Linked DNA regions of Homo sapiens. The protein of the gene in region 2 purifies or fractionates together with the protein of the main gene of each other region. This does not show direct contact. Each region holds a gene or a part of one and is shown on either strand. Other genes may lie near its edges. The genes, in order: OPA3, TNFRSF17, TARBP1 and FAM171A1.

What was found.
Region 1: the proteins of TNFRSF17 (region 2) and OPA3 purify together in Homo sapiens (affinity purification with mass spectrometry; 2 studies listed by BioGRID and IntAct, with this or other methods). This does not show direct contact.
Region 3: the proteins of TNFRSF17 (region 2) and TARBP1 purify together in Homo sapiens (affinity purification with mass spectrometry; 2 studies listed by BioGRID and IntAct, with this or other methods). This does not show direct contact.
Region 4: the proteins of TNFRSF17 (region 2) and FAM171A1 purify together in Homo sapiens (affinity purification with mass spectrometry; 2 studies listed by BioGRID and IntAct, with this or other methods). This does not show direct contact.

Annotation. Positions count from the first base shown.
Region 1 is NC_000019.10:45,546,778-45,553,802, forward strand, and holds part of OPA3 (optic atrophy 3 protein), read right to left. Parts: coding exon 6,737-7,025; 3' UTR 1-6,736. UniProt on the Homo sapiens protein: May play some role in mitochondrial processes.
Region 2 is NC_000016.10:11,960,808-11,968,210, forward strand, and holds TNFRSF17 (tumor necrosis factor receptor superfamily member 17), read left to right. Parts: upstream 1-4,402; 5' UTR 4,403-4,517; coding exon 4,518-4,647; intron 4,648-5,387; coding exon 5,388-5,534; intron 5,535-6,762; coding exon 6,763-7,040; 3' UTR 7,041-7,261; downstream 7,262-7,403. UniProt on the Homo sapiens protein: Receptor for TNFSF13B/BLyS/BAFF and TNFSF13/APRIL. Promotes B-cell survival and plays a role in the regulation of humoral immunity. Activates NF-kappa-B and JNK.
Region 3 is NC_000001.11:234,392,165-234,399,189, forward strand, and holds part of TARBP1 (tRNA (guanosine(18)-2'-O)-methyltransferase TARBP1), read right to left. Parts: intron 6,390-7,025; coding exon 6,218-6,389; intron 1,674-6,217; coding exon 1,482-1,673; intron 1,323-1,481; coding exon 1,198-1,322; intron 389-1,197; coding exon 252-388; intron 1-251.
Region 4 is NC_000010.11:15,214,273-15,221,297, forward strand, and holds part of FAM171A1 (protein FAM171A1 precursor), read right to left. Parts: intron 6,789-7,025; coding exon 6,672-6,788; intron 1,839-6,671; coding exon 1,724-1,838; intron 330-1,723; coding exon 1-329. UniProt on the Homo sapiens protein: Involved in the regulation of the cytoskeletal dynamics, plays a role in actin stress fiber formation.

The DNA.
Region 1 (7,025 bases), on a different chromosome or scaffold from region 2:
ATGTCAGCCTCTCATGTAGCTGGGATTACAGATGTGCACCACCACACCCGGCTAATTTTTGTATTCTTTTTATTAGAGACGGGGCTTCACCATGTTGGGCAGGCTGGTCTCGAACTCCTGACTTCAAGTGATCCTCCCACCTTGGTCTTCCAAAGTACTGAGATTACAGGCGTGAGCCACCGCGCCTGGCCTAAAACTCTGCTTCTTATTGTGGCACGTGGCTGTAGATTGAGGTGGAGGTTCTGAGATCTGCGCGCAGTGGGGGTTACTGCTGAGCACTGGGGTCATTTCCTATGGGGAAGGAGGGAGGGAGGGAGGACTCCACAGAGGGGGAAGCTGAAGCCAGATGTGGTGGAAGCAGAGGCCTGAGTGATCCTGTTGGGGCTCCAGAGCTGGGATGACCTCCACAGTTGTGCCAATCAAGGCAAGGGGCAGCCTTTGCTTGCCTGGCCCCCTCACCTAACTTCTCCCCTCGCTTACTCTATTCCAGGGGATGGTAAACTTTTTCTGTAAAGGGCCAGAGAGTACGAGAGCCCTAGGATCTCTGTGCAAATACTCAGCTCTGTCACTGTACTGCAAAAGCAACTGTGGAAAATATGCAAACGAATGAGCGCCTGGGTTCCAATAAGTCTTTATTTACAAAGACAGGAAGCAAGGGTCCCCTTGATTTGGCCCAAAGGCCTTGGTCAGCGAGCCTCTGCTCTATTCTGACAGCCAGAAACTCTTGCTGTTCCAGGAACAGGCCAAGGCCACATCTGTCCTAGGACTTTCACAGATACTCACAGCCCTCTTCCTATCTCCCTCCATCTGAAGCGCTGCCTCCTCCCTGCCCACCTGTCTAGATCAGCGGTGCCCGTAAGTCCGGAACTCCTACCCTGCCTCCATTCCTCTCAGTCCTCATCACCCTATGCTGGATTAGCTTTTTCCTTTTTTTTTTGAGATGGAGTCTCGTTCTTGTTGCCCAGGCTGGAGTGCAATGGTGCAATATTGGCTCACCGCAACCTCCGCCTCCCGGGTTCAAGCGATTCTCCTGCCACAGCCTCCTGAGTGGCTGGGATTACAGGCATGCACCACCATGCCCTGCTAATTTTGTATTTTTAGTAGAGATGGGGTTTCTCCATGTCGGTCAGGCTGGTCTCGAACTCCCGACCTCAGGGGATTGGCCCGCCTCGGCCTCCCAAAGTGCTGAGATTACAGGTGTGAGCCACCACGCCTGGCCACTCTTTCCTTCTTTATTGCCGGTCTCTGGCACTAGAATGTCAGCTCCAGTGAGGGCCTCTGCTTGCTCCCAACTGGCTCCCAGCTACTAGAATGGAGCCTGGTGCAGTTGATCCTCAGTACACTCAGAGTTGCCATGCTTCTCCTCTCTCTGTCCACACCGACTCCAGCTACAAGCCATTGCCACTGGGGGACCCAAGCCTGCCACTCAGCAACACAGCGACCAGCCCAGGAGTAGCTCCGTGAGCCAATAGATCAGGTTGGGGCTTATGTAAAGCCCATTTTCTCCTGGGGTGGCTCTCAGCCATTTTGCCTCCCTCCAGGCAATGGCCTGCCCTACAGAGAAACCAACAAGAGGGACAGCAGGGCCTGCCAGGAGATGGGAGGGGCACAGCCCTCAGGGCACCTCCCAGGGTTTTGTGAGCTGGGATGAATGGGTTTATAGTCCTGAGTCACTCCAGAGGGAGGATTCCGGATTCAGCCCAGCCCCTGCTTCCTAAACAACTATGGGGTGGGGCAGGGAACACTGGAAAAGAAATGTACGTGTGAGCATCTGTAAGACCCGGTGACGGCAGGGCTGGGGCTGTCTCTGTCACCACTGTGACCCCAGCATAGGGTGGGGCAGAGAGTGGGTAACTCAGTGAGTTTTGTGTTTTATTTTTTTTATTTTTTTTTTTTTTGCGGGAGACGCCCTACCAAGGACACTGGGTCCATGTCCCGGTGCGGGACCACCTCAGTGAGTTTTTTGAGTGAAAGAATAAATAAAGGATATTTTTCCTAAGGTTGACATGGACCTTATTTATTTATTTATTTATTTATTTATTTAGAGATGAAGTCTCGCTCTGTCACCCAGGCTGGAGTATAATGGCATGATCTCGGCTCACTGCAACCTCCGCCTCCCGGGTCCAAGAGATTCTCCTGCCTCAGCCTCCCGAGTAGGTGGGATTACAGGTGCACAACCACCATGCCCAGCTAATTTTTGTATTTTTAGTAGAGACGAGGTTTCACCATGTTGATCAGGTTGGTCTTGAACTCCTGACCTCAGGTGATCCACCCACCCTGGCCTCCCAAAGTGCTAGGATTACAGGTGTGAGCCACTGCGCCCAGTCCCAAGGACTTTTTAAATATGAAAAAAGAATGCATCAACTTGAAGATAATCAGCTTCATTTACAAATTTATTCTAACCCCTCTCCCCAAATTACAAGGTACACAGAATTCTAGCTAGCAGAACACACGAGCAGTGAACCATCCTCTGGCCTCTTGCATTTTGAGAGGACGTTCTTTCCACTTCCACACACTCTGGCCACCCCTGACGCCGCAGTGGGGGAAGTAGATGGCCCTGCTGCCCACGATGACTGGCTGCCTGTCAGGGCAGGGCAGGGCAGGGCTGAGTGCGAAGTCTCTGAGATGTGAGAGCAGCACTCCATCTGGGTCAGGACAGCGCTGGGGTCAGGAATTGGAGCTCCTGCCTGTGTTCACACTCCCACCTCTGTTTTTTTTTTTTGAGTTGAGTCTCACTCTGTCACCCAGGCTGGAGTGCAGTGGCGCGATCTCAGCTCACTGCAACCTCCACCTCCTGGGTTCAAGCAATTCTCGTGCCTCAGCCTCCCGAGTAGCTGGGATTCAGGAATGTGCCAACATGCCCGGCTAATTTTTGTATTTTTAGTAGAGACGGGGTTTTGCCATGTTGGCCAGGCTGGTCTCGATCTCCTAACATCATGTGATCAGTCCACCTTGGCCTCTCAAAGTGCTGGGATGACAGGCGTGAGCTGGCCTGGGTCACTCCCAGTTTTAAACACAGCCCACTCAGGACCCACTCGGTCAGTTCCCTCTGCTCCAGCTTCTCCCCCTCTTCCAGAAGGAACTGAAATGCTGTTTCAGGCCAGGCGCGGTGGCTCACGCCTGTAATCCCAGCACTTTGGGAGGCCGAGGCGGGCGGATTACCTGAGGTCAGGAGTTCAAGATCAGCCTGGGCAACTTGGAGAAACCCCGTCTCCACTAAAATACAAAAATTAGCCAGGCGTGGGTGGTGGGCACATGTAATCCCAGCTACTTCGGAAGCTGAGGCAGGATCATTGGTTGAGCCTGGGAGGTAGAAGTTGCAGTGAGCCGAGATTGCACCACTGCACTCCGTCAGGGTGACGGAGCTAGACTGTCTCCGAAAGAAAAGAAAAGAAAAAAGAAGAGAAAAGAAGAAAAGAAAAGTTTCAGAACCTGTTTCTTGGCTTTCTATCTGGGCAGATCTTGGTCCAGGCCAGTTTTACCTCTTTAGAGAAGGGAGGTGAGGATGGAAGTCGGGGAAAGCCCGGCCCTCCCACTTTCACCTGCAGCTTCCCAAAAGCGGGCCCAGGTGGAATGGTCACCCAGTTTACACAATGCTATGATCTCTGGTGTGATCTGGGGCTGCTCTGAGAGGGGATAGAGAGGGTCTCCCACTATCAACGCCACCTCTGGGATGGTCTGGGCCTCTGTGTAGAGATCGTCACCCTCCCAGCCTCTGCTCAGCCATCGCCTCTCCCTCCTCACTCTGCAGCTGGGGTAATCCAAGCCTCTCACTCTGCCCCTACTACTTCACCACCCTGGGCAGTCAGCCCCTCACTGGCTGTGGCATCTCTGGCAAGTCCCTTTGCTTACCCCTGGCCTTAGTTTCCCCAGCTCATAGGGTGACTCTTGGGCCTCTCCCCATCAGAACCCTCCCAGTTTCCCTCCTGATTTTAATAAGCTCTGTACCCATTGTGGAGATCCACATGGTGGTTCAGGTACAGCCTCAGGATGCCTTCATCACCTTGCAGCTCCTCTAATGAGAGAGCTACAGTCGGAAGGACAGACTGCAGGCTACTGGGACCCACCCCCTCCCGCTTCAGTGGCAGATCCTGGAAGAGAAACCCAGTAGAAAAGGGTGGTTCCTAGACTGTTCCTCTCAGCTAGCAGGAAGGCCAAATGGCCCGCGGGGTTGGCAGGAGTCCCAGGGTACTTTTTTTCTGAGAAAGGGTCTCACTCTGTCATCCAGGCTGGAGTGTAGTGGCGCGATCACGGCTCGCTGCAGCCTCGACCTCCAGGGCTCAGGTGATCCTCCTGCCTCAGCCTCCCAAGTAGCTGGGACTACAGGCATGCATCACCGCACCTGGCTAATTTTTTATTTTACTTTTGTAGAGATGGGGTCTCACTATGTTGCCCAGGCTGGTCTTCAGCTCCTGGGCTCAAAGAGATCCCTCCTGCCCTGGTCTCCCAAAGTGCTGGGATTACAGGTGTGAGCCACTGCACCTGGACGCCAGCGTACTCTTGGGGTGAGGAGGAATAGTGGGCTGAATGGCTTGAATGGTGTGCCCCCAACAGACAAGTCCACATACTAACCCCCAGGACCTGTGCTTATGACAGTTTATTTGGAAAAAGTGTTTTTTCAGATGTAATTAAGGGTCTTGAGGTGGGATCATCCTGAACTTAAGATGGGCCCTAAATGCAATGACAGGTGTTCTTGTAAGAGACAAAATAGAAGAGGGAAAAGGCCATGTGAAGCTGCAGGCAGAGCCAAGGAAGGCCTGGAATCACCAGGAGCTGGAAGAGGGAGCGTGTCCCTGTCAGCACCTTGGTTTCAGACTTCTGGACTCCAGAACTGTGTGAATTAAATTCCTGTTGGACTTAAGCCATCAAGTTCACCACCCAATGGTGATCTGTTATGGCAGTCCAAGGAAATTAATCAAGCAGTTAAGGCCAACTGCTGGCCTAATTGGTAGGATGGGGGTGGGACCGGGGGCTATGGAGGCAGGAGGGTACTGCTACATGAAGACAGGCTGTCGGGTCAGTCCAGAGCTCCGAGGAAAGAAAGCAAGAGCACACAGATTAGGAGACACGGATGGAAGATGAAGGATGTGACAATTGAATCCATGGGCTTGGATTCGACTGGGTCCCTGAGAAATGCTACTGAGCAAGGTGGGGAAGGCAAGAAAGGACATGCCACACAGTACAAGCTCCAGGGACTCTGAGGACAGGAAAATAGGGGGCTGAGGCTGAAGGACAGGCTGGATTAGCCCTAGTTAGGATCAAATTTCCCACCACGGAAAGGGGGGTTGGAGGACATTCACAGAAAAGATCCTGTAGTGCCATTCCAGTGGGTTGTGCCATAGACTCAAGGATGAGGGGGTTCTGTTGGAATAGTCCACTTCGGGTCTCAAGGGAAGGTACAATGATTCCAGGGATTGACTGCAGGCCAGGACCTTTTGTGGGTTTTTTTAAGATGGAGTTTTGCTCGTTACCCAGGCTGGCATGCAATTGCGCAATCTCGGCTCACTGCAACCTCTGCCTCCCGGGTTCAAGCAATTCTCCTGTCTCAGCCTCCCAAGTAGCTGGGATTACAGGTGCATGCCACCATGCCCAGCTAATTTATGTATTTTTAGTAGAGACGGGGTTTCATCATATTGGTCAGGCTGGTCTCGAGCTCCCGATCTCCCGACCTCCCGACTTCAAATGACCCGCCCACCTCGACCTTCCAAAGTGCTGGGATTGCAGGTGTGAGCCACCGTGCCCAGCCAGGATTTTTTTTTTTTTTTTGAGACACAGTCTTGCTCTGTCACCCGGGCTGGAATACAGTGGTACAATCTTGGCCTCCACCTCCCAAGTTCAAGCAATTCTCCTGCCTCAGCCTCCCAAGTAGCTAGGATTACAGGCACCCACCACCACGCCCGGTTAACTTTTGGTTTTAAGACGGTGTCTTGCTCTGTTGCCCAGGCTAGGGTGCAATGGTGCCATCTTGGCTCACCGCAACCTCCACCTCATGGGTTCAAGCAATTCTCCTGCCTCAGCCTCCCGAGTAGCTGGGATTACAAGCGCACCCCACCACACCCGGCTAATTTTTGTATTTTTAGTAGAGACGGAGTTTCACCATGTTGGCCAGGCTGGTCTGGAACTCCTGACCTCAAGTGATCCGCCCGCCTCGGCCTCCCAAGGTGCTAGGATTACAGGCGTGAGCCACCGCTCCCAGCCGCACCGTTTTTTTCCTCCTTAAGAGAGCACTGATGCTCAGCTAGAGCTGACCTTAGAAGGTGAGGGGGAGAAAAGGCCACTGCAACACACTGCATTTCCTTACAGTGGTCTGTGCCGATTGACAAAAAGAAGAAGGTGTTCCAGTGTAACAGATGAGTGTCCCAGTAAAGGTTAACACTGATCAGGTAAACCGGGGGTGGGGGTAACAATAACACATTGATTCAGCTCAAGACCAGGTTCCATTTTTTCATTTGCCAGAGTGCCCACGGTGTCCTGCTGGCTGGGACCTTGCAGGTCGTCCTGGTTTGGAGTGGGGGATAGGAGGTGAAGGATGATGGAGGGGGCTATGTTGCAACGCTTCACCTGCTGGTCCCAGTGGCAGGTAACGGCTGCTCTTATCAGCAGGGGTAACCAAATGCCAAGTTGCATCAAGATCCTGGTGGTTTCCACTGGGCCAGCGCAGGCAAGGGTGGTGCGGGAAGAAGGCCACGTTAGGTACATAGGCCATGTCCAAATTCAGGTTCCATCCAGCAAGCTCCTATTTCTTGGACGCAGGCACTGCGTGGGAAGCGGACCGGCCGGGATTGCAGAGCTGGGCGCGCACCTCTTGCAGCTCTGTGCGCAGTTCCTCCAGGGCGCCCTGTGGCGGCGCCGCCTGCACCTGCGCCTGCAGCGCTTCCAGCGCCAGCGCCAGGTGGCCCACCTCGTCCCGCAGCGCGTTCCAGGCAGCACGCTGCTCCTCCTCCTTGTGGCGCTGCTGCGCCTGGTGGCGCCAGTACTCCAGCACTAGGCAGCCGCCGCCCACGATGAAGATGGTGGCTTCGCCC
Region 2 (7,403 bases):
CCCTAACTCAGGCTAAAATCTCTCCTTGCTTGACTGTTATGGGAGATTTTTTTTTCTTTCTTTTCTTTTTTTTTTTTGAGACACGGTCTCACTCCGTAGCCCAGACTGCAGTGCAGTGGCGCAATCTTGGCTCACTGCAACCTCTGCCTCCCAGGTTCAAACGATCCTCCTGCCTCAGCCTCCCAAGTAGCTGGGATTATGCACGCCACCACGCTTGGCTAATTTTTGTATTTTTAGTAGAGACTGGGTTTCACCATGTTGGCCAGATTGGCCTCAAACTCCTGACTTCAGGTGATCCACCTGCTTCAGCCTCCCAAAGTGCTGGGATTACAGGTGTGAGCCACTGCACCCAGCCTGGGAGATAATTTTTGTTCTCTCCCTATTTCTCTAATCATGTTTGTCCTGTCTCCTTTGCCTGTCTTCCAAAGGTCAGCAATCTGGCAGAGGCTGAGGGAGTGGAGCCTCCTGGGCCAGCTGCTTCAGCTTCTCCCTGTCCTGCCTAGGCAGCCTCTCCCACTTACCTCACCACCTGGACCCCAGAGGAATTTGACGTTTTGATCAATATCTAAGTTCAAAATCTTTCCTAGGCTCAAGTCCTGCATTTAAAAAAAAAAGTATTTTTTTAAATTTCTGCATTTTATTTTCATGATTTTAGCATTTATTATGGACTACTTTAAAAATACAAAAAGAGGCCAGGCGCAGTGGCTCACGCCTATAATCCTAGCACTTTGGGAGGCCGAGGCGGGCGAATCACTTGAGGTCAGGAGTTCGAGACCAGCCTGGCCAACATACTGAAACCCCGTCTCTACTAAAAATACAAAAATTAGCCAGGCCTGGAGGCACGCACCTGTAATCCCAGCTACTAGGGAGGCTGAGGCAAGAGAATGGCTTGAACCTGGGAGACGGAGGTTGCAGTGAGCTGAAATTTTGCCACCACACTCCAGCCTGGGTGACAGAGTGAGACCCTGTTTAAAAAAAAAAAAAAAAAAGGTATGAGCAGTTGTATAATATGCTCTATCTGCCTCCTGGGTGGATACAAATAAAATAGGTAGGGTCTGAATAGACAGACATAAACAGAGGCTCTATTTGGAAAGACAGAAGACTGACAGTGGCTGGGCACTGTGGCTTACACATGTAATCTCAGTACTTTGGGAGGCTGAGGCAGGAAGATCACTTGAGCCCAGGAGTTCAAGACCAGCCTGGGCAACATGATGAAATCTCATCTCTACAAAAAATACAAAAATTAGCTGGGCATGGTGGCATGTGCGTAGTCCTAGCTACTCAGGAGGCTGAGGTGGGAGGATCGCTTAAGCCCAGAAGGTGGAGGCTGCAGTGAGCCCTGATGGTGCCACTGCACTCCAGCCTGGGCAATAGAGCAACACCCTGTCTTAAAAAAAAAAAAAAAAAAAAAGGCTGGGTGCGGTGGCTTGCACCTGTAATCCCAGCACTTTGGGAGGCCGAGGCGGGTCGATCACGAGGTGAGGGGATTGAGACCATTCTGCCCAACATGGTGAAACCCTGTCTCTACTAAAAATACAAATATTAGCTGGGCATGGTGGCGCATGCCTGTAATCCCGGATCATGAGGTCAGGAGATCGAGACCATCCTGGCTAAGATGGTGAAACCCCATCTCTACTAAAAATACAAAAACAAAATTAGCCAGACATGGTGGTGGGTGCCTGTAGTCCCAGCTACTCTGGAGGCTGAGGCAGGAGAATGGCATGAACCTGGGAGTCGGAGCTTGCAGTGAGCTGAGATAGCGCCCCTGCACTCCAGCCTGGGTGACAGAGCAAGATTCTGTCTCAAAAAAAAAAAAAAAAAACCAAAAAAAAAGAGGAAGACTGACAGTAATTACTGCCTCTGGCAAGAGAGAGGAAATCCAGGGTAGGAAAAAGACTTACTTTTCATTGAAAAATCTTTGGCACTGTTTGAATACTTATTTTTTAATAATATGAATTTTAAAAACAAGAATTATCAGTGGCTGGGCGCGGTGGCTCACACCTGTAATCTCAGCACTTTGGGAGGCCAAGGCAGGTGGATCACGAGGTCAGGAGACTGAGACCATTCTGCCCAATATGGTGAAATCCTGTCTGTACTAAAAATACAAATATTTGCTGGGCATGATGGCGCATGCCTGTAATCCCAGCTATTCCGGAAGCTGAGGCAGGAGAATCACTTGAACCCGGGAGGCAGAGGTTGCAGATCGCACTACTGTACCCCAGCCTGGCAACAGAGGGAGACTCCATCTCAAAACAAACAAACAAACAAACAAACAAATAAATAAAAAATCATCCAGGCTAGGTGGCTCATGCCTGTAATCCCAGCAGTTTGAGAGGCCAAGGCCGGTGGGTCACCTGAGGTCAGGAGTTCGAAACCAGCCTGACCAACACGGTGAAACCCCGTCTCTACCAAAAATACAAAAACTAGCCAGGCGTGGTGGCATGCACCTGTCATCCCAGCTACTCAGGAGGCTGAGGCCAGAGAATCGCTTGAACCTGGGAGGTGGAGGTTGCAGTGAGCCGAGATCGCGCCATTGCACTCCAGCCTGGGCAATAACAGTGAAACTCCAGCTCAAAAAAAAAAAAAAAAAGAATAAGTTTTTAAAGGTTGGGGTGCTTGGAGGATGAAATAAAGTAGAAGGGATGGCAGGTTTCCTTGGCACACTCCTTGGGCCTTAAGAAAGTGTAAAGAATAAGAAAAATACAACAAAAGGAAAACAACAAATATCAATGTATCCACCACTCAGCTTAATAAAGAAAATATAATAAACACAGGTGAAGCCTTTTTTGTGCTCCCCTTCTTCCCCACCACTTACCTCAGAGATAATCACTATACTGAATTAGGAGTTTGCCATTTCCTCAAATTTTAATTGAGTCCTGCATTTTTGACAAACATCTGGACGTCTCTATATGGGTATTTCACTCAGTATGGTTAAAAGCAAATTCAAGCTGGGCTTAGTGGCTCACACCTGTAATCCCAGCGCTTTGGGAGGCCGAGGTGGGTGGATCACTTGACCCCAAGTGTTTGAGAGCAACCTGGGCAACACGGCAAAAACCCATCTCTACAAAAAATACAAAACTTACCAGGCGTGCTGGCGCATGTCTGTAGTCCCAGCTACTTGGAAGGCTGAGGTGGGCAGATCACCTGAACCCAGGAGGTGGAGGCTGCAGTGAGCTGTGATTGTGTCACTGCACTCAGCCTGGGAGACAGAGTGAGACTCTGTCAAAAAAAAAAAAAAAGGCAAATTCAAGTGATCCATTTATGTAAACAGAAAAATGCACTATATAAATGTATCTATCTAGAATTCAGGGATCGGTGAAACAAAAGACATCGCATCGGCAGGTCTGTTTGCAACTTCTGGGATACACCAGGTGTTAGCGGTGATGACTTCTGGATGCTTGGACTGTGGATTTTTAAAATGGTTTTATCTGCTCATCTGTATTTCTAAATTTTCAACAATGGAACATAGATTATTGTATTATTATTATAATACCCCAAACCTATCTTCCTCTCAGCCCTCTTTCCACGAGCTCTTACCCTAAATGTCTCTTTTTCTGTCAGTGGCATTGTGCGTCTTCCTTAGTGCATCACCTCTGATCTTCCTGTAGAATTTTTTTTTTTTTTGAGATAGAGTCTTGCTTTGTCACCCAGGCTGGAGCGCAGTGGCCTGATCTTGGCTTACTGCAAACTCCGCCTCCTGGGTTCAAGCACGTCTCCCTGCCTCAGCCTCCTGAGTAGCTGGGATCATAGGTGCCTGCCACCATGCCTGACTAATTTTTGTATTTTTAGTAGAGACGGGGTTTCACCATGTTGGCCAGGCTGTTCTGGAACTCCTGACCTCAAGTGATCCACCTGCCTCGGCCTCCCAAAGTGCTGGGATTACAGGAGAGCGCCACGGCGCCCAGCTTACACCAGACTACTTTTTAAAATGTTTTTGTAAAGTCAGGGTTTCGCCATGTTGCCCAGGCTGATTTTGAACTCCTGGGCTCAAGCAATCCTTTTGCCTTTTGACTCCCAAAGTCCTGGGATTACAGGTGTGAACCCCTGCAGCTGGCCTCAATGTTAAGATCTTAAGGGGCACAGCACAGACCTTGTCTTGTCTATCTCCCTGGCACCTCTCACAGAGTACAGCTTATTAACAGATGTTCCAGAAACTGTTACTGAACATTCGGCTTGATGCTGTGGGCTTGTCTGCATCTTGCAACTGTCACCTGGCTGAGAAATTTCTTCTATAAATAAGCAGTTTCTGTTTCAGATGTGATATGCCCTGATATTTACACCCTGTCTCTTACCCCATCCAAGACTCAAACTTAGAAACTTGAATTAGATGTGGTATTCAAATCCTTAGCTGCCGCGAAGACACAGACAGCCCCCGTAAGAACCCACGAAGCAGGCGAAGTTCATTGTTCTCAACATTCTAGCTGCTCTTGCTGCATTTGCTCTGGAATTCTTGTAGAGATATTACTTGTCCTTCCAGGCTGTTCTTTCTGTAGCTCCCTTGTTTTCTTTTTGTGATCATGTTGCAGATGGCTGGGCAGTGCTCCCAAAATGAATATTTTGACAGTTTGTTGCATGCTTGCATACCTTGTCAACTTCGATGTTCTTCTAATACTCCTCCTCTAACATGTCAGCGTTATTGTAATGCAAGTAAGTAATATTGCTTGAACGATTATTCATTGGTGTGAACTATTCTGTCTATATGGACTGCTTATTCAGAGAATCAACATAATGGGCATGATGGTGAGTTTTCTTGAATCAAAAAGAGAAAGGAAGCAAGGCAGTGATTTTAATGTTTATGGAAACAAAGTAATTATTTGGAACTGAACTTGATATGATTCAGCACTATTAGCAACATAGATTTTTTTTAAAAATCAGCTCTTCTAATTAAGTGATATTTAGAATTTAAAAGTCAATGTTCATTAATTAAGGTGATTGAATGGAAATAATCCATACTTGATTATTTTGCTATCAAAACAATCCATAATTCATTATTTTAGCAAAATAATCAAGTATGACAGCCGGGTGCGGTGGATGGCTCACACCTGTAATCCCAGCACTTTGGGAGGCCGAGGTGGGTGAATCACCTGAGGTCGGCAGTTTGAGGCCAGCCTGGCCAACCTGGTGAAACCCTGTCTCTACTAAAAATACAAAAAATTAGCTGGGCATGGTGGCACAGGTCTGTAATCCCAGCTACTCGGGAGGCTGAGGCAGGAGAATTGTTTGAACTTGGGAGGTGGAGGTTGCAGTGAGCCGAGATCGCGCCACTGCACTCTAGCCTGGGCAACAGAGCAAGACTTTGTCTCAAAATAAATAAATAAATAATAACAATAAAGTATGTGAATATTATGTTATCAGCTCATTATCTGTCTGATGTTCTTTTCATAAAGGTGTGACCAATTCAGTGAAAGGAACGAATGCGATTCTCTGGACCTGTTTGGGACTGAGCTTAATAATTTCTTTGGCAGTTTTCGTGCTAATGTTTTTGCTAAGGAAGATAAACTCTGAACCATTAAAGGACGAGTTTAAAAACACAGGTTGGTTTGATGGTGAATCTTTGAAATCTATTTCCAGGGGATGGCTATTGTGAGTTTCAGTTCCTTTTCTTTTTTTAGCGTTGACTATTTCACTTCGTTACAGCCCTTTCGAATGTGTTAGAACATTGTTACATTAAATGAACTTGGTAGAGGTGAGCCATCTTCATTCTGATTTTGACACCTTGGCAGATTTTCTACAATGTCAGTCTTCTCCAGGATTCTTCCACTGTTAATTACTCTATTGAAAGTACTAAGGCTTTCTTGGGAAACATCAGTCTCTTTGACTAAAGTTAGCACATCGATTAAATGCCACATTATCAGAAACTCCTAGCCAGGTCTGCTACTGTCAGGAAAAGCATATTTGTCAAGATCTATGGTCATGTTTTTATACAAATATAGGTGTTCTTTGCTTGAGTGAACATTTTACTACTGAAAAATGTTAGAAATGAATAACCAGTTGCTCCTGAATTATTTGAGGAATCATCTAAAAAATAATTATTTTTAAGCAATAGAGAACCAGTCCCAGAAAAATGAATGTTCTACTTAAGTGCCTCTTAAGATAAAAATACTTCTGCAGCACCTTTGCTCATGATTGGATTCCCAAGCATGTACAGCCACTGCCCTATTTCTGTATGCATTTATTTATTTATTTATTTATTTATTTATTTATTTATTTAGAGATGGAGTCTCGCTCTGTGGCCCAGGCTGGAGTGCAGTGGCGTGATCTCAACTCACTGCAGCCTCTGCCTCTTGGGTTCAAACAATTCTCCCATCTCAGCCTCCTGAGTAACTGGGACTATAGGTATGTGCCATCACCTCCGACTAATTTTTGTACTTTTTGGTAGAGACAGGGTTTCATCATGTTGGCCAGGATGGTCTCAAGCTCCTGACCACAAGTGATCTGCCCGCCTCAGCTTCCCAAAGTGCTGGGATTACAGGCGTGAGCCACAGGGCCCAGCACATACTCATTCTTTTTTACTGAAAAGATCTGTTTCAAGCTGGGTGTGGTGGCATGGAGCTGTAGTCCCGACTGCTCTGTAGGCTAACGTGGGAGGATTGCTTGAGCCCAGGAGTTTGAATGCAGCCTGGGCAACACAGTAAGACCCCACCTCTAAAAAATGAAAAAATCTCTCTCACATTGCTTTGAGTCCCGATGTGTACTGCTAAGACTCTCATGACCACATTCTCTGTGAAGTTTGGGTTAATGTTTCCGTTTCTACATAATTAGGATCAGGTCTCCTGGGCATGGCTAACATTGACCTGGAAAAGAGCAGGACTGGTGATGAAATTATTCTTCCGAGAGGCCTCGAGTACACGGTGGAAGAATGCACCTGTGAAGACTGCATCAAGAGCAAACCGAAGGTCGACTCTGACCATTGCTTTCCACTCCCAGCTATGGAGGAAGGCGCAACCATTCTTGTCACCACGAAAACGAATGACTATTGCAAGAGCCTGCCAGCTGCTTTGAGTGCTACGGAGATAGAGAAATCAATTTCTGCTAGGTAATTAACCATTTCGACTCGAGCAGTGCCACTTTAAAAATCTTTTGTCAGAATAGATGATGTGTCAGATCTCTTTAGGATGACTGTATTTTTCAGTTGCCGATACAGCTTTTTGTCCTCTAACTGTGGAAACTCTTTATGTTAGATATATTTCTCTAGGTTACTGTTGGGAGCTTAATGGTAGAAACTTCCTTGGTTTCATGATTAAACTCTTTTTTTTCCTGACATCTAAGTTTTTATTAACGTGAGTTTTTAAAAACAAGCATGTATACCAGTGTGGGGGGTGAGGGTGGGAGAGAAAGGTGGGAGGGGGAAAGAATTCTAACCTATTGATAATAAAGCTCCAGTTTTGGCCAGGCGCGGTGGC
Region 3 (7,025 bases), on a different chromosome or scaffold from region 2:
ACCAGCCTAGCCAACATGGTGAAACCCTGGGTCTCGTGGAGCATGCCTGTAATCCCAGCTACTTGGGAAGCTGATGCCTGAAAATTGCTTGAGCCAATGAGGCAGAGGTTGTAGTGAGCCGAGATTGTGCCACTACACTCCAGCCTGGGCTACAGAGTGAGACTCCGTCTCAAAAACAAAAAAAAACAAGGTAACATCTTCCAGTAGTCTGGGGCTCAGAGAATATACTATGGACACAAGAAGCTTCTTACCCCAACAAGAGCAGAGATTTCTCAGGAAAGCAATATTGGGTTAGGTCTAAACTTTTGGCAGTTTGTTCCACTCCAATGATGGTATAACCTTCTGTTTTCTTCTGCTGCAGATAATCAATTAGCTGAGGTGGTTTTACCTGAATATTAGTTTAAAAAGAACAGAATATTCATTCAGTTATAGCCCTGCTTGGAGTAAATTAGAGTTAAAAAACGTATTAACCTAAACTTAACTCTTTAAAAGAAAAAGGAGAGAATTATACATTATAAAAAAGAACTCTCCCAACATGACATCAATTTCTTTTTTTTTTTTTTTGAGGTGGAGTCTTGCTGTGTCACCCAGGCTGGAGTGCAGTGGCGCGATCTTGGCTCACTGCAAGCTCCGCCTCCCGGGTTCACGCCATTCTCCTGCCTCAGCATCCCAAGTAGCTGGGACTACAGGCGCCCACCACCACGCCCGGCTAATTTTTTTTTATTTTTTATTTTTTAGTAGAGATGGGGTTTCACTGTGTTAGCCAGGATGGTCTCGATCTCCTGAGCTTGTGATCCGCCCGCCTCGGCCTCCCAAAGTGCTGGGATTACAGGCGTGAGCCACCGCGCCCAGCCACCATGATATAAATTTCTAAGAATTATTCCTACATCAAGAGTGGGCTGTAACAGGATATGTTTTACTGAACAGAATTCTACATTATTGATGATTTCTAAAACTGTGACCTATAAAAAAATAAGTAGAAAAACAGAAGTGAGCTGTATGTTATTTTTAAACACTGTTCTTAAATGATTAAAGACTGCACTATTATAAATTATGCAAAAGGACTAATACACAAAGATAGAGCACTATAAAATATTTTTACAAATACAAACTTTTTTTTAAACTTTTATTTTAGGTTCACGGGTACATGTGCGGGCTTGTTTTAAGAACTTTAATAATAAATTACTTTCCACCCACCTCCACTAGAGGAAGCCACTGTTCTGCAGAGACACTGAGGTGCTGAAACTGTTTGTCGCTGATACACTGAAGGCTGCCAACAACGAGCACTGAAGCCCCAAATACCTCACAGGTCCTGCACAGTCCTGCACAGAACACCTGGGATCATTAAGATTGTTCCCAGCACAATGCTAAGCTCATCATGTCGCATACATTCCTTTGAAGCTCCCGTGGCAGTGGATTAATTAAAAAATGTTGAAGACCAAAAGCTTTCAGGCAAAGCTCCCAGAAAACTCCAACTTTACCTCCTAAATTGGTCGGTTTGTCGATGAGCGAGGCCACAACGATGAGTCTACTAATTGACTTTCCAAGTCTGGCAGCACGATCCTGAAACAGGAGCTCCAGGTCTAAGTCGGAAACACGACTGTTCCACGGGATAATCTTCTTCTGAACGTCGGTCCACTCCGCTTGGTTATCTGCTTCGACCAAATTAGTACCTGGGAAGGAAAAAGAAAACAATCCCACATATAAATAAATCTGAATCTCTATATATTTATGTATACATGTATATGTATTTTTAAGAATGTGAAATAATTTAGAATGAGATAATTTAGAATGAGACTTAACAAAGCATTAAGTAAAAAACTTTAGTTGGATTCAGACACAATTCCCATTTGTAGTAGTAACTTTAAGTTTTCAAAATCAGCTTTATTAACCAACATATTATGATACTTCATGGAAACATGAGATACACGTTTTTTCACGTTTTAGCATATCTGAAATTGAGACACATCTTAGAATCCAGAGTATCATAGTTTGGTAACATTTTTTTCCTTGGAAGTACATAAAATAATGATGTATCTTACAAACAGCAGTATATTAGATTGGGATTTTCTATGGAAAGACTATTTCTGAAAACAATATAATAAAATATCTAAAATAATTTTAAAAGTGCTGGAGTAACTTTTCTAAAATGAAGGATGTTGTATAAAGCAGTTATCTCTTGACAAAAGTGATGAGGACACAGAACGTTACTAGCCTATCTGACTGCAGTGTTTTCATCTCTGTAGTACAGGACTGAGACTCTACCTCTCAGGCTCTTCCTCAACTCTGTCCTACTCCAAACTGCTTTCTGAGCAATCAAGTGGCACTTAGTTCACTTAGGATAGGACAGACATGCAAATAACTGTAACACAGTACAACAGTGAAGGTAATGCTTACACAGAAAGGGGTTACTAATGTCTAGGGGAGGGAGAAGCAAAGGGTAAGACCCCGGAAGGCTCGCGGGAAGGAAGGTAAAAGTTTGCAAAGCAGACAGTAGATACAGCATGTGCACATGCATGGGATGTAGAAGCAACATGGTTCAGACAGCAGCAAGTACCTTGGTTTAGTGCACAGCCTGCAATGGAGTGGAGGGAGATGGCTCAAACCAAAGGGCTTTGCATACAATGATAAAGAATTTATTCTGTTGGCCAGGCATGGTGGCTCATGCCTGTAATCCCAGAACTTTGGGAGGCTGAGGGAGGATCACCTGAGGTCAGGAGTTTGAGACCAGCCTGGCCAACATGGTGAAACCCCGACTCTACTAAAAATAACACATTAGCCAGGTGTGGTGGTGGACGCCTATAATCCCAGCACTTTAGGAGGCCAAGGCGGGAGGATCACCTGAGGTCAGGAGTTTGAGGCCGGCCTGGCCAACATAGCGAAACCCCATCTCTACTAAAAATACAAACATTAGCCAGGCATGGTGGTAGACGCCTATAATCCCAGCTACTAGGGAGGCTGAGGCACGAGAATCGCTTGAACCCGTGAGGCAGAGGTTGCAGTGAGCTGAGATCGTGCCACTTCACTCCAGCCTGCAGCCTGAGAGACAGAGCGAGACTCCGTCTCAAAGAAAAAAAAAAATTATTCCACAGTTAAAAACCATTAAAAAATTTTAAGAAGGAGAGTAACAGTACTGCTGTGTGTTTTAGAAAAATCTCTTTTAATAGCTATGTGGAGGCTAGAAAACCATTAAGGGGCTTTTGTAGTAGTCCAGGTAAAAACAATGCCAGTCTAAATGAAGACAAGGCAAGAGGGGCTAAAGAAGAGGAGGAGGAGGCAGCTTTGGGAAGTGAAATCGCCAAGACTGGGTAACGGATGTGGCAAGAGCAAAAACAGGACAAGAACGACTTCCACGATGATTGACCAATACCATTAATAGGGCATACAGAGCAGGCACTTTTGGGCAGAAAGGCAAACTGAATTTGGATATGGTGATATTTCAAGAGCTTAAGGAATATCCCGGTGCTAATGTCCAGTCTGTTCAGGACAGAGGCTGGGCAGCAGATAAGGATTTGAAAGTTATAGTTACACAGGCGGTGGTTTCAAGTTGGGGACATTAATAAATGTGTTCTGGGAGAGGATGAAGAGTGAGAAGAAGACTGGGCCCGTGAAAACCTTCAGTGGCAGGAGGAGAGGTTGGTCAGAAGGTACAAAGTTAGTCAGTCAGGAATAAGCTCTTGTGTTCTAGTACACAGTAAGATGACTATAGGTAACAATAATGTATGTATACTTCCAAATAGCTAGAAGAGAGGATTTTCCATGTTCTCATCACAAACGTGAGAGGTGACAGATATGCTAATTATCCTGATTTGACCATTACACAATGTATATATGCATGAAAACGCCACACTGTACCCCATAAATATGTACAATTATTATTTGTCAATTAAAAATGAAGTAAAACTTCTTTAAAAAAGAAAAAAAATTAGGGGGATACTAACATTTAAGCCTCAGCATGGAAAGTCTATTACAACATGCCCCTCTTTACCAAAAACAGGCAGAACAGACAGACCTCGTTAGCCATTCTGCCATTCCAGTAACACTGTATTTCCCTGCTCCGCTTTACGCAGAACTCGACAGCTGCCTACAATGCCATCTCTCTTCCCTCTCCTCCCAGGCTCTACCCAACCGCACTGGGAAGTGCCTCCTGTCACTGTCCTTTGCTCTAGAATCTTCACAGTTGCTCTTCCTTTTCCAGTAAAGCTCTCGCCGGGACAGACCTTGCCTTGCCTTGCCCATACTTCCTTGGGGTCTCTGCTCAATGTCAACTCCTTAGAAAGGTCTTTCTCACCCTCCGTCCCTCTCTTCACCCTGCTTTGTTTTTTCACGGTACTTCTACTACCAGACACTGTGTTAGGTACGTGCTCCCTGTTGTCTCCTCTGTAAGAATGTGGGCTCTATGAGGCAGGGACTCGGTCTCATGTCTAACACGCAGGAGACAATCAATCAATCTTTGTTGAATGAATAAATTTAGGATAGTATGTCTTAAAACACATTAGTGAACCATCCAGAGGCCTGACAAAAATTGCATTTTCCCAGAACTCTCCTCCAGAGATACTGAATTTAAACTAAGGGTGGTTCCAGACCCATAATTGGCCTTTAAAAAAAAAGAAAAAAAAAATCTAAGGGTGGGACATGGAATCTGAATTTTCAACAAGTCACATGTGAGTCCTGAAGACATGGAAAGTTTGGAGAAGCACCGATGTCAGGGGCATGTGGGGGACTCAGAATGAGAAGGGTCAGAGTAAGGAGGAAAGGCAGGATGGCCGGAGACTGGCAAACATGTGGCACAGAATGGGCAGGTGCAATCTGAGGGCAGCGTCCATTTTCCACTCGGACTGTGTAAAAGAAACCGAAAGAAAATTTCTAATTTCCTGAAAGAAGTTTCAAAGGTGGTAATCGGCTGGGGAGAGTCAGAATGAGGCTAAAATGTGAGTGACAGACTGATAGGAAGATAGCCTACAGTCATTAAGACGGTCATTTTTAAATTGAGTTAGGGAACCTGATTCTTGGGTTTTTAGGACAGCTTGACTGTGAAGGGGAAGAGGAGGAGGAGGGGGAGGAGGGGGGAAGGGGGAGGGGATGGGAAAGTGGAGAGGGAGGGAAGGGAGAAGGGAGTAGGGGAGGCAGAGGAGGGGGAAGGGGAGAAAGGGGAGTGGGAGGAGAGGGAGGAGGGGGAGGGGGAGGATGGGGAGGAGGGGTGAGGGGGAGGAGGCGGAGGGGGAGGACGGGGATGGGGAGGAGGGGGAAGAGGGGGGAGGAGGGGGAAGAGGGGGGAGGAGGGGGAAGATGGGGGAGGGGAAGGAGGGAGGATGGGGAAGAGGGGGAGGGGGGAAGGGGGAGGGGGAAGGGGGATGGGGAAGGATGGGGATGGGGAGGAGGGGAAAGAGGGAGGGGGGAAGGGGGATGGGGATGGGGAGGAGGAGGAAGAGGGGAGGAGGTGGGGGAAGAGGGGAGGAGGTGGGGGAAGAGGGGAGGGGGAGGGGGAAGAGGGGAGGAGGGGGGAAGAGGGGAGGAGGTGAGGGAAGAGGGGGAGGGGGAGAGGGGGAAGAGGGGGAAGAGAGGGAGGAGGGAGAAGAGGGGGGAGGGGGAAGAGGGGGAGGAGGGGGAGGAGGCGGGGGAGGAGGGGGAGGAGGCGGGGGAAGAGGGGGAGGGAGGGGGAGGGGAGGAGGGAGGGGAGGGGGAGGAGGGGGAGGAGAGGAATGTGGGTCCCAGAGGAAGCTGGTGGAAAGGAGTCATTGTACAGGGAAGGATGAGACAGAGGAGAAGGGATAACATGAAGCGGCGTCCAACCAACCAAGAGGGGACTAGAATCAAGAGCTCTGCTTTATTCCTATGAAGGACAAAAAAAGAGATTTCATCATTTGGTCCTTTTGGAAATGTTTATTTTTACAGAAATATATAGTAGAAAAGCAATGAGTGTTAACGAACAATACTACTTAAAAGGGAGGCCACTGGCCATCAGCTTTATATAAAGCAGATCAGGCTTCCTTTGGCTTTTTTTTTTTTTTTAAATAGCTTTAAAGCTAAGTTTCACTAAAAGTGTTAGTCAAAGTTATACCACACTTTTTCACTGTCTTTTCCCTAAGTGGAAAGGCAGAGGTCACCATGTCAATGAAAGTGATATTATTATTAACTACCTGTCCTTAGTAACTTAAATCAAAAAAATCTAACCAGATCAACAAGGGGAAAAAATAAAATGAAAATTATTTTTTACCTATGTCTTGCTGAGACCAGTCACCTGGTTTTAGTTTACTAAGTTGAGTTTGAGAAAGGTACCACTGAAATCCCGCAGCTAAAGGAACATCAGTGAATCTGGTAAATTTATCAATGGTGATCCATTCATCTTCAATAAGGCCTGAAAGGCGTGGAAGGATGTAAAATATGGTCTGAAAAGAGAATTATAAAATCTAAATTTCTTCCCTTAAGAATAACAAAGAAATATATAACATTTAAAATACAACTTAATTATTAATGATATATTCTCCAAACTATTACATCTGATCAAACTATATACTTTCATTTATATCTTATAGCAACTGTCTATATATATTTCTCATCTTCTCAGAAATTAGGGGATTAATTTAGGAAACCCCTGAGAGGAGGCAGAACTTGTACTCTGGTACTTCTAACTGTGTGTAATAAACCAGTATGTGCCTAATAAAAACAGTGTTTCAGAAGTAATCAGTTCTAATGATGGACAGTATTTGGATAAGTGCAATTTACTGACAACTAAATACCTCCAAAGGCAATCAAGTTCAAGCTCTTTTCATGACAAGTCTTTTACTCTCGTACCCATTAGATAAATTTAGAATCTGAATTCTGGTTTGACTAATATAATTAGTTATGTGACGTTAGGCAAGTGATTCAGCCTTTCTTGGCTTCAACTTCCTCATTTGTAAGACGAGGATAAAATCAGATTACAACAACATATTAAAGTGTTCGTGAACACGGCATAGTCTGACACCACTGTAAACAGTCATCGCATAAGCAATCCTCCTTTGCTTTTCTTACCTACTAAAAGA
Region 4 (7,025 bases), on a different chromosome or scaffold from region 2:
TATCCTCTTCCTTGCAAGAGAGGAGCTCCTCCCGGGAGCTAAATTCCTGGGAGGTGCTGTAGGAGAGCTTGAGCATGGGGGTGTGCAGGTCCCCTTCGCCGCCCGGAGACATCATTTCCAAATGGACTCCACTCATCAGTTCCTTCGTGCCGGGGGCCTCGGGGCGGCCGTGGCTGGTGACGGACAGCGGGCCAGGGAATTCTGACGCTCGGCGTGAAAACAGCAAGTTAATGTGTGACATGGACGTGGACTGGTCTCTTTTGGAACTCTCCAGTCCTGCAGGGAGCTGCAGTTTTCTGTGGTGCTGACGAGGTTTCAAGCACTTCCTCCTGCGCCCAAAGACACAATCCAAAGCCAAAGATTAGTGATTCTCACAATGAAAAAGTTTCAAGTTTCAGGTAAAATCCTAATTCTCAATTTCCATGGGGAGAGACAAAACAAAACAAGTCAGGAGCAGCCAAAAGCCTTCTCACCCCACGCCCTGTCTTTTTTTTTTTTTTTTGAGACAGCATCTTGCTTGCTCTGTCGCCCACGTTGGAGTGCAGTGCTATGATCATAGCTCACTGCAGGCTTGACCTCATGGGCTCAAGTGATCCTCCCACCTCAGCCTCCCGAGCAGCTGGCACCGCAGGCACATGCCACCATGCCCAGCTAATTTTTGACTTTTAGTTTTTTTGTAGAGATGGCCTGTGTTGCCCAGGCTGGTCTTAAACTCCTGGCCTCAAGCAATCCTCCCCCTTCAGCCTCCCAAAGTGCTAGGCCTCCATGCCTGGCCCTTATCCTTATTTTATCCTTATTAGAGTAGGATAATCGAGAGATTTCATCTTTTACTGTCTGGAGAGCCCTTTGCCTAAATGAATTAAATGTATGACATTCATTTTTCTATGACTTAAAAAAGTCAACAACTTATTAAAGAGTCTCAAACGTGACTAAAATGCTTTGCATTTTTAAAAATAAAATTTTTCCTCTATAATGCCTTTTTAAAACAGCTAAACTTAAAGGCTTTTATAAGCCAAGTTACTTATTTCAAAGGGGTTACTCAAGAGTTGACAATAAATATTCTTGCAAACTAAACAGACACGGCATCTAAATAAGAATAATTTTTTTTTTTGAGATGGAGTCTTGCTCTGTTGCCCAGGCTGGAGTACAGTGGTGCAATCTTGGCTCACTGCAACCTCCACCTTCTGGGTCCAAGCAATTCTCCTGCCTCAGCCTCCCAAGTAGCTGGGATTATAGGCGTGTGCCACCATGCCCAGCTAATTTTTGTATTTTTGGTAGAAACGGAGTTTCACCACGTTGGCTAGGCTGGTCTCGAACTTCTGACCTCAAGTGATCCGCCCACCTCGGCCTCCTAAAGTGCTGGGATTACAGGTGTGAGCCAACGTCCCTGGCCCAAATAAGAAGAGTTCTGCTTTGCCCTTCAGAGTATCATCTCTTAATCAGCGTTCAGGAATACTCTGAATAAATCAGATGACTATTGTTAAACTCTTTTTCATAACTCCCCTTCTAAGCAATGTTATCCACGCAGCATGCTTTACACATACTATTTGTTAAGTTGCAACTTAGATCACAAATGTGAGTTCTTACTTTTTCATGGGAAGAAAAAGTACTTCAATTTAGAAAAATTAAAAAAAAAACCCACCTCCATATTAATGCTTCTAAGTATCAATTGCCCAAGAAACTGTGAATTAAAAAAGATATTGCCAAAATGGTAACACTTTACCTGCAATAATATAAAAGGAGACACAGCAAAACCAAAAGTATGAAAGCCATTCCTCCTAAAATGGCCAAAAGAAACACCGTGTGATACGTGGTAATGTCCTGTGTTACAACGGGACCTAGAAGGTCAGAAAATGGCATTTAGAGTTTTGAACACCTTTAACTCAAAAGAGGGATCATTCATTGAGAACGCAGTGTCTTGTGCTTACTCTTCTTAGCTGGGGCATAGAGCAGTGGCCAGAGGAAAACGCCCTTGGATCATGCACTTGGGGTACCACCAGCATTGCATTAGTGATTAGCATGACTATTATGGAAGCTCCCACAGCCAGGAGAACTTTGAATACTCAAAGACAAGATGTGGTTACGTCAAGGGCCCCTCCTAAGCGGAGAAGTGCGCCTCACTTGGTAGCATGTGCCGCATTTGAAATACATGATCTTTTTAATTTTTTTTTTTTTTGAGACAGGGTCTCATTCTGTCACCCAGGCTGGAGCGCAGTGATACAATCATGGCTTACTGTAGCCTTGACCTCCTGGGCTGCATCAATCCTCCTGCCTCAGCCTCCAGCATAGCTGGGACTACAGGCACGCACCACCACACCTGGCTAATTTTTATAAATTTTTTTTAGAGGCAATGTTCTCACTATGTTGCCTAGGTGGGTCTTGAACTCCTGAGTTCGAGCAATCCACTGCCTCGGCCTACCAAAGTGCTGGGATTATAGGCATGAGCCACTGTGCCCAGCCATATGATCTTTTCATACAAGAAAATGAACGCATGACGATATAATGACTGGGACTCTCACCTTCAGAAAGATGGCCTATCTGGGAATTTTATATTGCAGTGAAAAAAAAAAAAAAAACCCTACAAAGTTTTATTTTCGCTTTTCCCGGGCAGTCAATCATTACCGTCTGGAGAGCCCCTAGCCCAAATGAATCAGTTTAAATGTATGACATACATTTCCTGTGACTTAAAAAAGTCAGCAACTTTTAACACTTAATACAGGTATCAAATATGACTAAAATGATATCCATCTTTAAAAACAAGATCTTTCTCTACAATGGCTTTTCAAAATAGCTAACCTTACGTGGCCAGAGATCTCTTTAGAACTTATACATAAGGTTATCAAAGATAAAAATATTTTAAGTTTATGTTGTAAAAAATCCCAAGAGGTAGCTTAACTCACATTTTATGTTCCGTAGTAGTACAAATCTATCTTAATGTTACTAACAACAGATCAGCGACAACAAAAACCTCCCAACATTCCAATATTTAGGTATTTATTGGTGTCCGAGTTTCCTGGCAGTGTATGAATACATGGGTCGAAATGAACTGGCCTCATATTATTTCAGGGTAGCATGGCTATGATTATTAAACACCACAGACACCCATTTGCTTATTTTTGATTTTTGACATTCTAAGACATAGACTTTTTAAAAAATCTTCTTAAGGGGACAAATCTCCTAATTTAAGACCTAGATAAACCCAAGATTTACCAGTTTTTGAAAACAGTGATGTTACTTAAATTCACAAGAAACACCATTCTCTTTCAGATATAATTACTTCAATGGAGTGCGAGGAGGGGGTTAAAGTTTACAAAAATTGGAAAAATAACTGACAATTAGATACTGGCTTACTTGTTCAGAGAAACAATTTTTTTTTTTTTTTGAGACGGAGTCTTTGCTCTGTCACCCAGGCTAGAGTGCAGTGGTGTGATCTCAGCTCATTGTAACCTCTGCCTCCTGGGTTTAAGTGATTCTCCTGCCTCAGCCTCCTGAGTAGCTGGGATTATAGGCGCCCGCCACCATGCCTGGCTAATTTTTTTAAGTAGAGATGGGGTTTCACCATCTTGGCCAGGCTGGTCTTGAACTCCTGACCTCATCATCCACCTGCCTCGTCCTCCTAAAGTGCTGGGATTACAGGCATGAGCCACCGCACCCGGCCCAGAGAAACAATTTTTTCATGCAAAGACAATAGACAATTCCCACGGATGTAGCAAAGCTTTGTCAGGAGTCACCAAGAAACTTAGGGTACACATAAAAGTATTTCCAAATACTGATGCTTCGTCCTTTAAGTACTCAAAGCATTATTGTTTTGTTTTGTTTTGTTTTGAGATGGAGTCTCACTCTATCATTCAGGCTGGAGTGCAGTGGCACGATCTGGGCTCACTGCAACCTCTGCCTCCCAGGTTCGGATAATTCTCCTGCCTCAGCCTCCTGAGTACCTGGGACTACAGGTGTGTGCTACTGTGCCTGGCAAATTTTTTGTATTTTTAGTAGAGACAGGGTTTCAACGTGTTAGCCAGGATGGTCTTGATCTCCTGACCTCATGATTCGCCCACTTTGGCCTCCCAAAGTCCTGGGATTACAGGCATGAACCACCGTGCCTGGCCAGCATTATTGTTTTAATCTCTGCCAGTACGATTCTTTATAAAATTCACAGCTATACTTCACTTCAAGGAGTTAAGGAACATAACCCAAATTATTTTGTTGTTGCTTTTGAGTTCATGAAAGCCCAATATTAGTATAATTTTTTGTAATAAAGGTGGGTTGTGAGATGACTGACATATGTATCCCTACATTAAATACCATCAGAGGCTGTAGTGGGTATGCTTTGTGTTATTTTTGAGATGGGGTCTCACTCTGTCACCTACGCTGGAGTGCAGTGACATGATCATAGCTCACTGCAGCCTTGAACTCCTGAGCTCACGGGATCCTCCTGCCTCAACCTCTCAAGTAACCGGGATTACAGGTGAATGCTACCATCACTGGCTAATTAAAAAAAATTTTTTTAGAAGTGGGGTCTTGCTGTGTTGCCCAGGCTGGTCTTGAACTCCTGGGCTCAAGAGATCATCCTGCCTTGCCTCCCAAAGTGCTGGGATTACAGGTGTGAGCTACCATGCCCTGGCCTGTGTATGCTTTTTATAGCCTTGAGTCTCTTCCTTCACTGCTAGGAAGCTCTCAGGGGAGCTACGTCTGGCAGTTCCTTCATGCTGCCTTACAAAAGCATATACTGGACAGGCGCAGTGGCTCATGCCTGTAATTTCAGCACTTTGGGAGGCTGAGGCGGGGGGATCACCGGAGGTCAGAAGTTCAAGACCAGCCTGACTAACATGGTGAAACCCTGTCTCCACTAAAATACAAAAATTAGCCAGGTGTGGCGGCGGAGACCTGTAATCTCAGCTACTCTGGAGTCTGAGGCAGGATAATTGCTTGAACCCAGGAGGCGGAGGTGGCCATGAGCTGAGATCATGCCATGGTACTCCAGCCTGGGCAACAAGAACAAAACTCTGTCTCAAAAAAACAAACGAACAACAACAACAACAAAACCAAAACACACACACACAAAAAGCATGTACTGATCTACTGCATGATGGGAAAACTAATAGCTGAGATTGAAATACATCTAAAATTAAAGTTCATTTTAATGCGTGGGCTTTATGGCATTTATTTTAGTGCTTAAGACAATTCTTTTCCTTCCTTTGTTTCTCTTCAGTCATAATCTAGGTATTTCAGATTCAGAGAATGGGGCATTTCTACGTGTGGTTCATGCTTATATCACTACAAAAACAATAGCATCAAGGGAAACACATTAATCTTTTTTTTCTTTTTTTGAGAGGGTGTCTCGCTCTGTCGCCCAGGCTGGAGTGCAGTGGCACAATCTCGGCTCACTGCAACCTCTGCCTCCTGGGTTCAAGCGATTCTCCTGCCTCAGCCTCCCAAGTAGCTGGGACTACAGGCGTGTGCCACCACGCCCAGCTAATTTTTGTATTTTGAGTAGAGACGGGGTTTCACCATGTTAGCCAGGATGGTCTTGATCTCCTGACCTCGTGATCCGCCCTCCTCGGCTTCCCAAAGTGCTGGGATTACAGGCGTGAGCCACCGCGCCCGGCTAAGGGAAACACATTACTCTTAAAACAGATGTGAAGTGTAAATTTTCTTAGTATGGTGATATAAAGTCATTGTAACACATTTTTCCACACCTGTTTAGGAAAGACCTCCATCAAATCAGTTACTTTGTGAGTCTAAGTGCTAATTCCAGTGATAATTCCATTGCTAAAATATTTGAACTTGCATTTTAGAACTGCCTTCATGGTTCATTTACAAGAGACACCTTTTAATCACAGCACATTTCGACCTAGCTAAGTCACCTACTTTATTCACCAGTCTTGAATGTGCATGACTTTTAGATGTCTTTAAAAAGAAAAATCATAAAGATTTGCCATTTGAGCATAAAGATTTGCCACCAAGAAAGAGATTTACTAATGAAGGCAGAAGGCAGTCCAAGTAATATAGATTCTAAAGGCAGCTTGAGCAACAGAAGCTATCACTGGAAATAATTCTCCTGAGATGACCATTTTGAAAACAAAACAAAACAAAACAAAACTCAACAATTCTAGAATATTTTTGGGGGTAACATAGGTTAAAAAAAATAAACTATTGGTCACGTTCTGAAAGATATGCATTAATGCACATATCCTAAATGGAGGGGAAGATTCTCGTAGATACAAAGCAACTGGTTTACGTTTAAGCCATTTTGGAAATGCCCCACCAGGCTTTTTGCCCCCAGTGGTGACTTCCCACTAGCATCTCTGTGGAGTGCTTTTCCCTACATGTGTGCCTATACCAGGCCACAGCTGTTTCAGGAATTAGGGAGGAGGTCTTGCTGGTCTCTGTGGGCTTTTGATGAAGAATTCCCTATGGCAGCTGTCTGAACAAAACAGCCACTCAAGACTATTTTCTATGCATTATTCTTACCCTAGATGGAAGATTTCCAACCAGAAGTCCCCCACCCCCGCAAAATACCTTCTTTACATCATCTCATTTTCAGACTTTTAACCATTTTTGAATAAGATGTGATCGCCCTGCTGAAGTTATTTTCAAGAGCATACTTAGCCTGAACCCTCAAAGACCAAAGCAACTGATCCGCATCATCGCAAGTGTTGGCTCCGTGTTACCTGGGATGGGAGGGGACATGGCGGCCACCCAGTACCCCAACTGGGGGGCAATGTATGTCCACGTCAGCTGGCTGCCTTCCTGGTGCACAAGACCCAGACCGCTCTTCAGCCACGTTCCTGTGGAATTGAGAAAGAGATGTTAGCTACAAGCACACCACGCTCCTTTGTAAGGCTTGAGCATATTGTAAAAGTCATCTTAAATATCTTAAATGTCATGTTTATGACCTATAAGATAACCAAGATGGCCAAAGTGTCATCTAGGGACCCCAGGCAGCTTTCTGGAGAAATTCTTTTCAATTTCCTTTCAGGGAAAGATAAGCAACTTTAGTGTTCCTTTGCCTTCTCAATTAAATT